2 linked regions of the Homo sapiens genome follow. The protein of the gene in region 1 interacts with the protein of each later gene in a pairwise test. Each region holds a gene or a part of one and is shown in the gene's direction. Other genes may lie near its edges. The genes, in order: ZFAND3 and FAM25C.

Region 1 (3,812 bases):
CAGTCTTCAAAAATGCTAAGATTATAGGCGTGAGCTACTGTGCCCTGCCTGTTCATTTATATTTATTTGCCAGGTACATTTTTTTTTATATACGATTGTGTTATACTTGGGAGATTGGCTACAGGACTCCCCTGCATATACCAAAATCTGTGCATACTCAGGTTCATCAGTCTGCACTGCAGAACCATCGTATATGGAAAGTAGGCCTTCCATATATGATTTTTGCATCCCGTGAATATTGTATTTTTGATCTGCATTTGGTTGAAAAAAATCCACGTGCAAGTGGACCCACACGGTTCAAACCCATGATGTTCAAGGATTAACTATACTTTAACATTTTGTTTATCCTCTCATATTTATGTTTTTAGTATGTCCCTTGTAAATTGAATACAACTGGACTTCATTTAGTCCAAATATTCTGCCTTTTAGCTGATAAGTTCAGTCTGTTTACATTTATTACCATTACTGACATATTTGTACTTATTTCTACCATCTTATTATGTGTTTTCTGTTTACTCTGCTGTTTTCTCTGCTGCCTTTTTCCTTATGACCTTTCCTTCTGAAAAGTTTGAAAAACTATTCTTTATTCCCTTTTTCCTTCTGATTACCCTTAAATTTTTAACATGCGTCTTTGGCTTTGCACAGAATGTTAAAATCAGTATGTTTGCATTCTTCTGAATAATAAGGGACCTTGGAAAACTTTTAACTCTAGTACCTTCCACTAATCTTAAACGTTTTTGACCAGTGTTTTACTCCCATGGTTTTTTAGTCACCCAGATCAGTCTTTATTATTGGTGTTGTTGCATTTAATTTTTGTACCAACTTCCATTGTTTTCTAATCCTCAGAGACTGTGAACTCCTTAATTAAGCTCGTTTTCTATTTTTCTTCAGATTTTCAAAAGAAACAGCCAGACGATGATTCCGCTCCAAGTACAAGTAACAGCCAATCAGATTTGTTTTCCGAAGAGACCACCAGTGACAACAACAATACCTCGATAACCACGCCAACTCTTAGTCCCAGCCAGCAGCCGCTTCCGACAGAACTGAATGTAACTTCACCGAGTAAAGAGGAGTGTAAGTGTCTGGCTTCTGAGGGGTGGTAGAGAGAGCAGCTTAAGAACTTTAGATGAGCATCTTGGTAATGCCTGACCCCAGAAAAAACAGCACTTCTTTTAATTCAAGATAAGTGTCCACATACAAGGCCCAAGCTCAGCAAGTTAGAGAATAAGTTTCAGCCATTCCTGAAGAAATAGCCTTTTATACCGTCAAAGTACATGAAGTTTGAACCAGTCTAGAGAGCAGTGGCTCTCACCTATGTCTGCACATTAGAATCCACTGGGGGTTTTTAAAACAATTTTAATCTTTAGCACCATTCCCTCGTTCTCATTTAATTGATCTGGAGGGAGGCCCAGGGATCTGTTATTTTTAACTCCGCAGAGGATTTCTAATATGCAGCAAGGGACCAGTAAGGGATTCTAACCCTAAAACCCTAATTTAGGAGCCTTAGATTGAAGCTTTACCTCTGTCACTAACTGGGCCTTGACTGTTTCTAAGCATTTAACTGAGATAGCACTATACTTCATAGAACATAGGATGTTTAAAGGAAGGAGGAGATGGTATTACTCTTCTGTAAGTCTTCAGTGTTGGAATGCTATTATGTAGGTTAGAAGTTCACTGTCTACTTAATTTCTTTTTTTTTTTTTTAGATACTCACTCTGTTGCCCAGGCTGGAGTGCGGTTGTACCATCTCAGCTGACTGCAACCTCTACCTCCTGGGTTCAAGTGATTCTCCTGCCTCAGCCTCCTGAGTAGCTGGCATTACAGGTGCCTGCCACCATGCCTGGCTAATTAGTAGAAACAGGATCTCACCATGTTGGCCAAGCTGGTCTCGAACTCCTGACCTCAAATGATCTAACCACCTTGGTCTCCCAAAGTACTGGGATTACAGGCATGAGCCACCATGCCCAGCCCATTGTCTGCTTAATTTTTATAATGTCATAATATACATCTCTTTCCCTCCATCCCCCATCCCTGGCGGTATGTGAGATATACATCTCTTTTAGGGCACAAATATAGTTGATAGTATTTGTTGAAAATTATAGGGATATTATGACATAGTAGTTTTTGCCTTTTAAAAGCTCTACTTGGCCAAGCCAGGAGGATTGCTTGAGGCCAGGAATTTGAGACCAGCCTAGACAACATGGTGAGACTCTTGTCTCTACCAAAAAAAAAAAAAAATTAGCCAGGCGTGGTGGTGTGTGTTTATGGTCCCAGCTACTTGGGAAGCTGAGGCAGGAGGATCTCTTGAGCCCAGGAGTTCAGGGTTACAGTGGACTGTGGTCTTAACCATTACACTGCAGCCTTGTGAGACCTGGCCTTTTTTTTCTTTGAAAGCTAAGTTGAAATTTAGTATTTCAAGTTTCATGAATATCTAGAAACACAGTAGGTTAGAATGTTCTGTGTTCTGTATACTAACTTTGGAAAGGTTAGCAGAAAACAAATATTTATCTAAATCTGTCATAAACTGCTATATTTGGTAATATCGAGAATATAAAATAAGCAAGGTCATAGTCTTTGTCCTCAAAGAATTTGAAGGGGAAATTAAATATATTTGTTGTAGTTTATCAGTGGTTATCAACCAAGAGTGATCTCCCACCCCACAGCCCCAGAACATTTGATAATGTCTGGAGACCAGGAATGCTGCTAAATGTCCTGCATCACATAGGACAGTCCTCTGCAACAAAAAATCATTCAGCTCACGATACCAGTAATGATGAGCTTGACAAACCCTGATACATGTTTGCATACACCCATGTTGGTCCTTATGTATTAAAGACAGCAACTGTTGAAGGGCATTGACCTACTGAGGAAGTGGTGGTAAAGATGGATAGAAGGTGGTGAAGAGACATACTAGACAGAGTAGAATGAGCTGTGGAAGGAAAGCTGCATGGAGTTTCTCAATGGCAAATGACTGTCTTAGGGCCATTTGTGGAAGAGAATGAAAGACAAGGCTGGAAGGGTAAGTTGTGGCCAAGACATAGAGGCTAAATGTCCAGCTAAGCTATTTGGACTTGAGACAGTAGCCATGTTTTTGAGCAGAGGAGGTGATATTATTACAGTTCTTTGGAGAAGTAACCTTGGTTGTATTGAAAATGGAAAGGATTAAACAGGAATAACATTGCAAAGAAAGAATTTTTTAAATATTATAACTTATTGAATAGAGGCCAAGGTGTAGAAATCATATAAGAGGAGAAAAAAAAAAACGGTGAAAATGGTAGTGGTCATGCTAAGGCAGTAGATTTTGTTTTGTTTTAAAAAATCTTTTCAAGATCATGTACTTACTGAGGAGTTGATGACAGCTGTGGCCTCTTGTCCTAGAAAAATATACACCATCCATTTATACCCAATTTTGCATAAAATTTCTCTACAGCTTATTATGGCCCTTGGGTTAAGAACTCCTGGTCTAAGGAAAAAGTTGGTCAGGATCTCATCTGATGGAAACTGGATTGGATTCGTGCATACCAGGATCGGGCCACCACAAATCAATTCAAGCCACCAAAATGCATGTGAGGCTGAGATAACAGTAGCTACCATTTATTGAGCACTTTGTATATGAGACATTATTCTACATGCATATTTTCTCATTGTTTTTCGTGATAACCCAATGAGGTAGATAGTGTCATTATACTCATTCCATAGATGAGGAATTAGACACAAAAAGATTAAGTAATTTGCCTGTGGTCACAAACGAGTAGATACCAGAACCAGGATTCAAATTTAGGCATTTGGCTTCAGAGTTCATACTTTTAATC
Region 2 (4,603 bases), on another chromosome or scaffold:
TTCTGGGTCCAGAAGTTCATACGTATATAAATGAAAAATGTGCAAGAATCATATTATTGTATTCTTTTTCATAAAGAGGCCCCTCTAAATTGTTGAAGCCCCGATCCACCCCTGCCCAAAGGAGACAGCAATGGCATGTGTGGGGCCACAGTCTTGAGACCCAGAGGTCCTGCTGCCCACGATACCCACTGTCCACCCTAGGGGGACTGGCCGTAGCCCTGGAGCCCGCAAACACCATGCAGGAATGCAAGAAGGTCTCAGCTCCCGAGTCCCAGGCTGGGAGGGCCCACAGTCCAGTAAACTAATCAGGCCCCGACACATCCAGGAGAGCAGCTCCAGGAGCCTGCATTGGGGAGAGAGCCTCAGACCCCTGCCACAGGCCTGCACCCCAGAAGTAGGAGCATGGGAAGACCTCTCCTTGGCTCCTGGCCAGCAGAAGTCACATTCCCCAGCCCTCTGGCTCCAAGGCAGCCTCACGTCCCAGTCACTCCTTGGCACACCCTACCAGTTGGTCAGAGCTCACTGCCAAAGGGCACCTCAATGATGAGTGGAGGGAACAGGTGTTTACCAGGAGCTTGCATGCTTTGTCTCAGGGATGATTAGGGACACAGCCAAGAAGACACGCTATGCCCATTTTACAGATGAGGAAACGGAGGCTCAGGTTGGGCTGGTGACTAAGGGAAGCAGCATGTGGCAGGTGGCTTGAGGCATGTCTGTCCATCATGAGTAACTAGGGAGCAGCCCTGCCACTCCTCATGCGATGCACCAGGAGCCAGGGAAGCTGCTTCCTAGGGGATTCTAGCTAAGGCCAGAAGCATCTCCCTGAGTGGTGGTGGAGGCCTCTGTCTACTCCTCCAGGACTGCCAGGGGATAGGAGGGCACTGCTGACCTCACAGAGCCTCTTGGGTGAGTGAGCATCAGCTGAGTGACACCAGGTGACTACGCTTCTGCCCAGTGCTGTGCCCCCCTCTGACTCGGGCAAGGCACCACCCTGAACGCCCCACCCTGTCCCATGGAGGCCGCAAACTGCTCTGCAGAGCCAGGGTCTCCAGGAATGGGGAGGGCAGTCACCCTCATTCCACTTGTGTTCATGACCCAAAGGACTGCCCAGGTCTCCAGGCCCATAGAACCCCCAAACCTCTTACTAGGCCACACTGGGGACCTTGAGCAGCAGGCTTGGAATCCTAGGCCTTGTCTCCAGGTACATATCAGTACCCAGGCTTGGGAAGCTTTGGTCTCAGGGGGGCTGGCACTCAGGCCCTCTGCCTCAAGGAAGAAGCATGTCCAGATCTCTACTGTCCAGCCCTGCTCCCTGCCCCTATCCTTCACGGGGTCCCTAGGACAGGGTTACAGAAGCCTCATGCTGTCAGGGGATGCTGCCACCCTAGTTCCAGGGTGGCTCCGCCCAGCCCCTTCCTGCTGCCGCCCTCACTGACTCACCTGTCCAGCCTCCTACTGGGCTGGGGTGAGGGCTTATTGCCCCAGAGCCTAGACAGACACCAGAGGCAGCTATAAAAGCATGTTGGGCCAGTCCTCAGCATCCTAGTTCGCCACTGTCTGCTGCCACACGATGCTGGGAGGCCTGGGGAAGCTGGCTGCCGAGGGCCTGGCCCACCGCACCGAGAAGGCCACCGAGGGAGCCAGTGAGGACCCGGGGCTCCTTTCTACCTGGGCTGGGGGGATCTGGGGCAGACTGGGTCTGTGGGAGGCGGATCTACGTAGGCAGGCGAGGACCTGCGGGGAGGCCTTGGCCCCTCAGGAACCCTGGTCTCCTGCTCTACCAAGTCAGCACGGAGTTGAGGGGTGCAGACCTGGGGAGGTCTCCTGGGGGCAGGGCATGAGTCCTGGTGCTGGGTGAACACTGGCAGCTTGGACCCTTCCCTCTGGAAATCTGGGGAGCCTTTCTTGTCAAAACAGCCTATTCTGAATAACCTATGCAGGAAAAGGAAGATGGATTTTTATTTTTACCATAACTTTAAAGCTTCAAAGATTTCTTAACAAGTCACCAAGTCTGTTCAAAGTCAAAAAGGGCATTTTCAATTTCATCCAAGTCCCCTAAAGCATGTTTATTTTTATTTGTATTTGTATTTGAAATGGAGTCTTGCTCTGGCACCCAGGCTGGAGTGTAGTGGTGCGATCTCGGCTCACTGTAACCTTTGCCTCCTGGGTTCAAAGTGATTCTCATGCCTCAGCCTCCTGAGTAGCTGGGATTACAGGCACCCACCACCACGCCCGACTAATTTTTGTATTTTTAGCAGAGACGGGGTTTCGCCATTTTGGCCAGGCTGGTCTCAAACTCCTGCCCTCAAGTGATCCATTCCTCTTGGCCTCCCAAAGTGCTGGGATTACAGGCGTGAACCACTGCACCTGGTCCCGAAGTGTATGTTGTATTCAGAGGTCAGCAGGTATGTGTGGGGAGGCCCAGCCAGGCCCCACTCATGGGTCATCGTGTGAAAAAGTCTTGCCTGAGTTTGTGTCCTCTTTCTAAATGGCAGCAGATGCGTATTTTGTTTTTGACTCTGCAGCTGGTGTGGACCACCTGCTTTAACCTTTCACTAGCCTCTGAGTTTTCTATGATTCCTGTTGGGAGAAAAGCTGAGTGTTGGGAGAAAAGCTGAGGCAGGGCTTGCTAGACTTGCTGGCTCCTTGCTTCTAGCACTGCCATTCTCTCAAGTAGCCATATGTTTCTCATTCACTTGATACACTGTTGCCTTTCAACCTCCACATCCTCACCACCTGTTTCTTTGTTAGATCACCAATAAATAGCGTGGGCTCCCAGAACTCGGGGCCTTCGCAGCCTCCACACTCGCGATAGCGCCCTGCTCCCATTTTCTCTCTCGAACTGTCTCTTTCTCATTCCTTTGACTCCGCTGGACTTGCCGCCCCCGTGACCTGGTGTTGGGTCTCATCATCCCAACAGATTCCCATTCTAAAGATGAGGGAACCAAGAGGTGGAAGGTAGAGTTAGAATAAGAACCATTTCTTCTGACTCTGAAATCCTTCAGTTCTAGCACACTACCACCCACACTTTAAAAAACTCTGAAGTAGGCAGAGAATTCCGTTTTGTTGGAGGAATTGCTTTGAGAGACCTGGTCTTAGTGGATGAGGCTTTGGAAACCAACCTGAGGCAGGCGCTAGCACATCCTGAGAGGGGTGTGACCTGGCACACAGGCCCAGCCTGGGTTTCATGTCTCAGCTGGCAAGACTGCCTGCTCATTGCCATTCCAGGCCGGGCAGGGCCAAGGGGCTTCAGGGACCCATGCCCTCATGGGGCTCACTGAGCTCGTCTCCCGGTAGCCAAGGCCCTGGCGTCTCCAAATGAAGCCAGCTGTGGGGGAAGGTCCTTCTCATGAGCCAGTCTGTCCTGGCTGGGGGTGGCATCCCAGAGCCCCATCTAGGATGCCCAGGGATGTATAGGTCTGTTGTGAGGATAAGCCAGCCCTGAGCCCTCACCCTGGACTGGGAGGGCAGTGGGCCTGCTCTGAGCCCTCACCCTGGACTGGGAGGGCAGCGGCTCTGCTCTGAACCCTCACCCTGGACTCAGGGGCAGCCGGCCTGCTCTGAGCCCTCACCCTGGACTTGTCTCCTCTGTTCAGTTCATGCCGTGGAGGAAGTGGTGAAGGAGGTGGTGGGACATGCCAAGGAGACTGGAGAGAAAGGTACAGCCGGCTGAGGTCGGGCAGGGAAGGAGGGAGGGAGGAAGGGAAGCTAGGTGCTGGGCCAACCTGTTCTTTGACTAACCAGGTCAAACTCTGCCCCTAATGTTGCAGCCTTTCAGAGCCTCTTGGCTGGGGCAGTTATCTATGCTCATCAGAGGCCACAGACCGTACTGCGTTAGGACACTGTCTAGATGGTTCTCTCTGTGGAATAAGAAGACAAAGTCACACAAGACTATGTGACAGCACACTGGGACAAAACATTTAACATGGCAGGGCACGGTGGCTCATGCCTGTAATCCCAGCACTTTGGGAGGCTGAGGAGGGCGGATCACGAGGTCAGGAGATCGAGACCATCCTGGCTAACACGGTGAAACCCCGTCTCTACTAAAAATACATAAAAATTAGCCGGGCATGGTGGTGGGTGCCTATAGTCCCAGCTACTTGGGAGGCTGAGGCAGGAGAATGGTGTGTACCTGGGAGGCAGAGCTTGCAGTGAGCCTAGATCATGCCACTGCACTCCAGCCTGGGCTACAGAGCGAAACTCGGTCTCAAAAAAATTGCTGGGGGCGGTGGCTCACGCCTGTAATCCCAGCACTTTGGGAGGCTGAGGTGGGCGGATCATGAGGTCAGGAGATCCAGACCACGGTGAAACCCCATCTCTACTAAAAATACAAAAAATTAGCTGGGCACGGTGGCGGGCACCTGTAGTCCTAGCTACTCGGGAGGCTGAGGCAGGAGAATGGCGTGAACCTGGAAGGTGGAGCTTGCAGTGAGCCGAGATCGCGCCACTGCACTCCAGCCTGGGCGACACTGTGATACTCTGTCTCAAAAAAAAAAAAAAAAAAAAAAAAAAAAATTAACATGTAAAATTCTATGTTAAATGTTAAATTGATGTGTGTGAGCTATGAGTAGTACTATGTACAAAGCATGTGTATATCTCATTC

The links.
Region 2: the proteins of ZFAND3 (region 1) and FAM25C interact in a two-hybrid assay, tested with the Homo sapiens proteins (one large-scale study listed by BioGRID).

Annotation. Positions count from the first base shown.
Region 1 is NC_000006.12:38,060,702-38,064,513, forward strand, and holds part of ZFAND3 (AN1-type zinc finger protein 3), read left to right. Parts: intron 1-891; coding exon 892-1,074; intron 1,075-3,812.
Region 2 is NC_000010.11:47,996,733-48,001,335, reverse strand, and holds the start of FAM25C (protein FAM25C), read left to right. Parts: upstream 1-1,544; 5' UTR 1,545-1,570; coding exon 1,571-1,643; intron 1,644-3,596; coding exon 3,597-3,659; intron 3,660-4,603.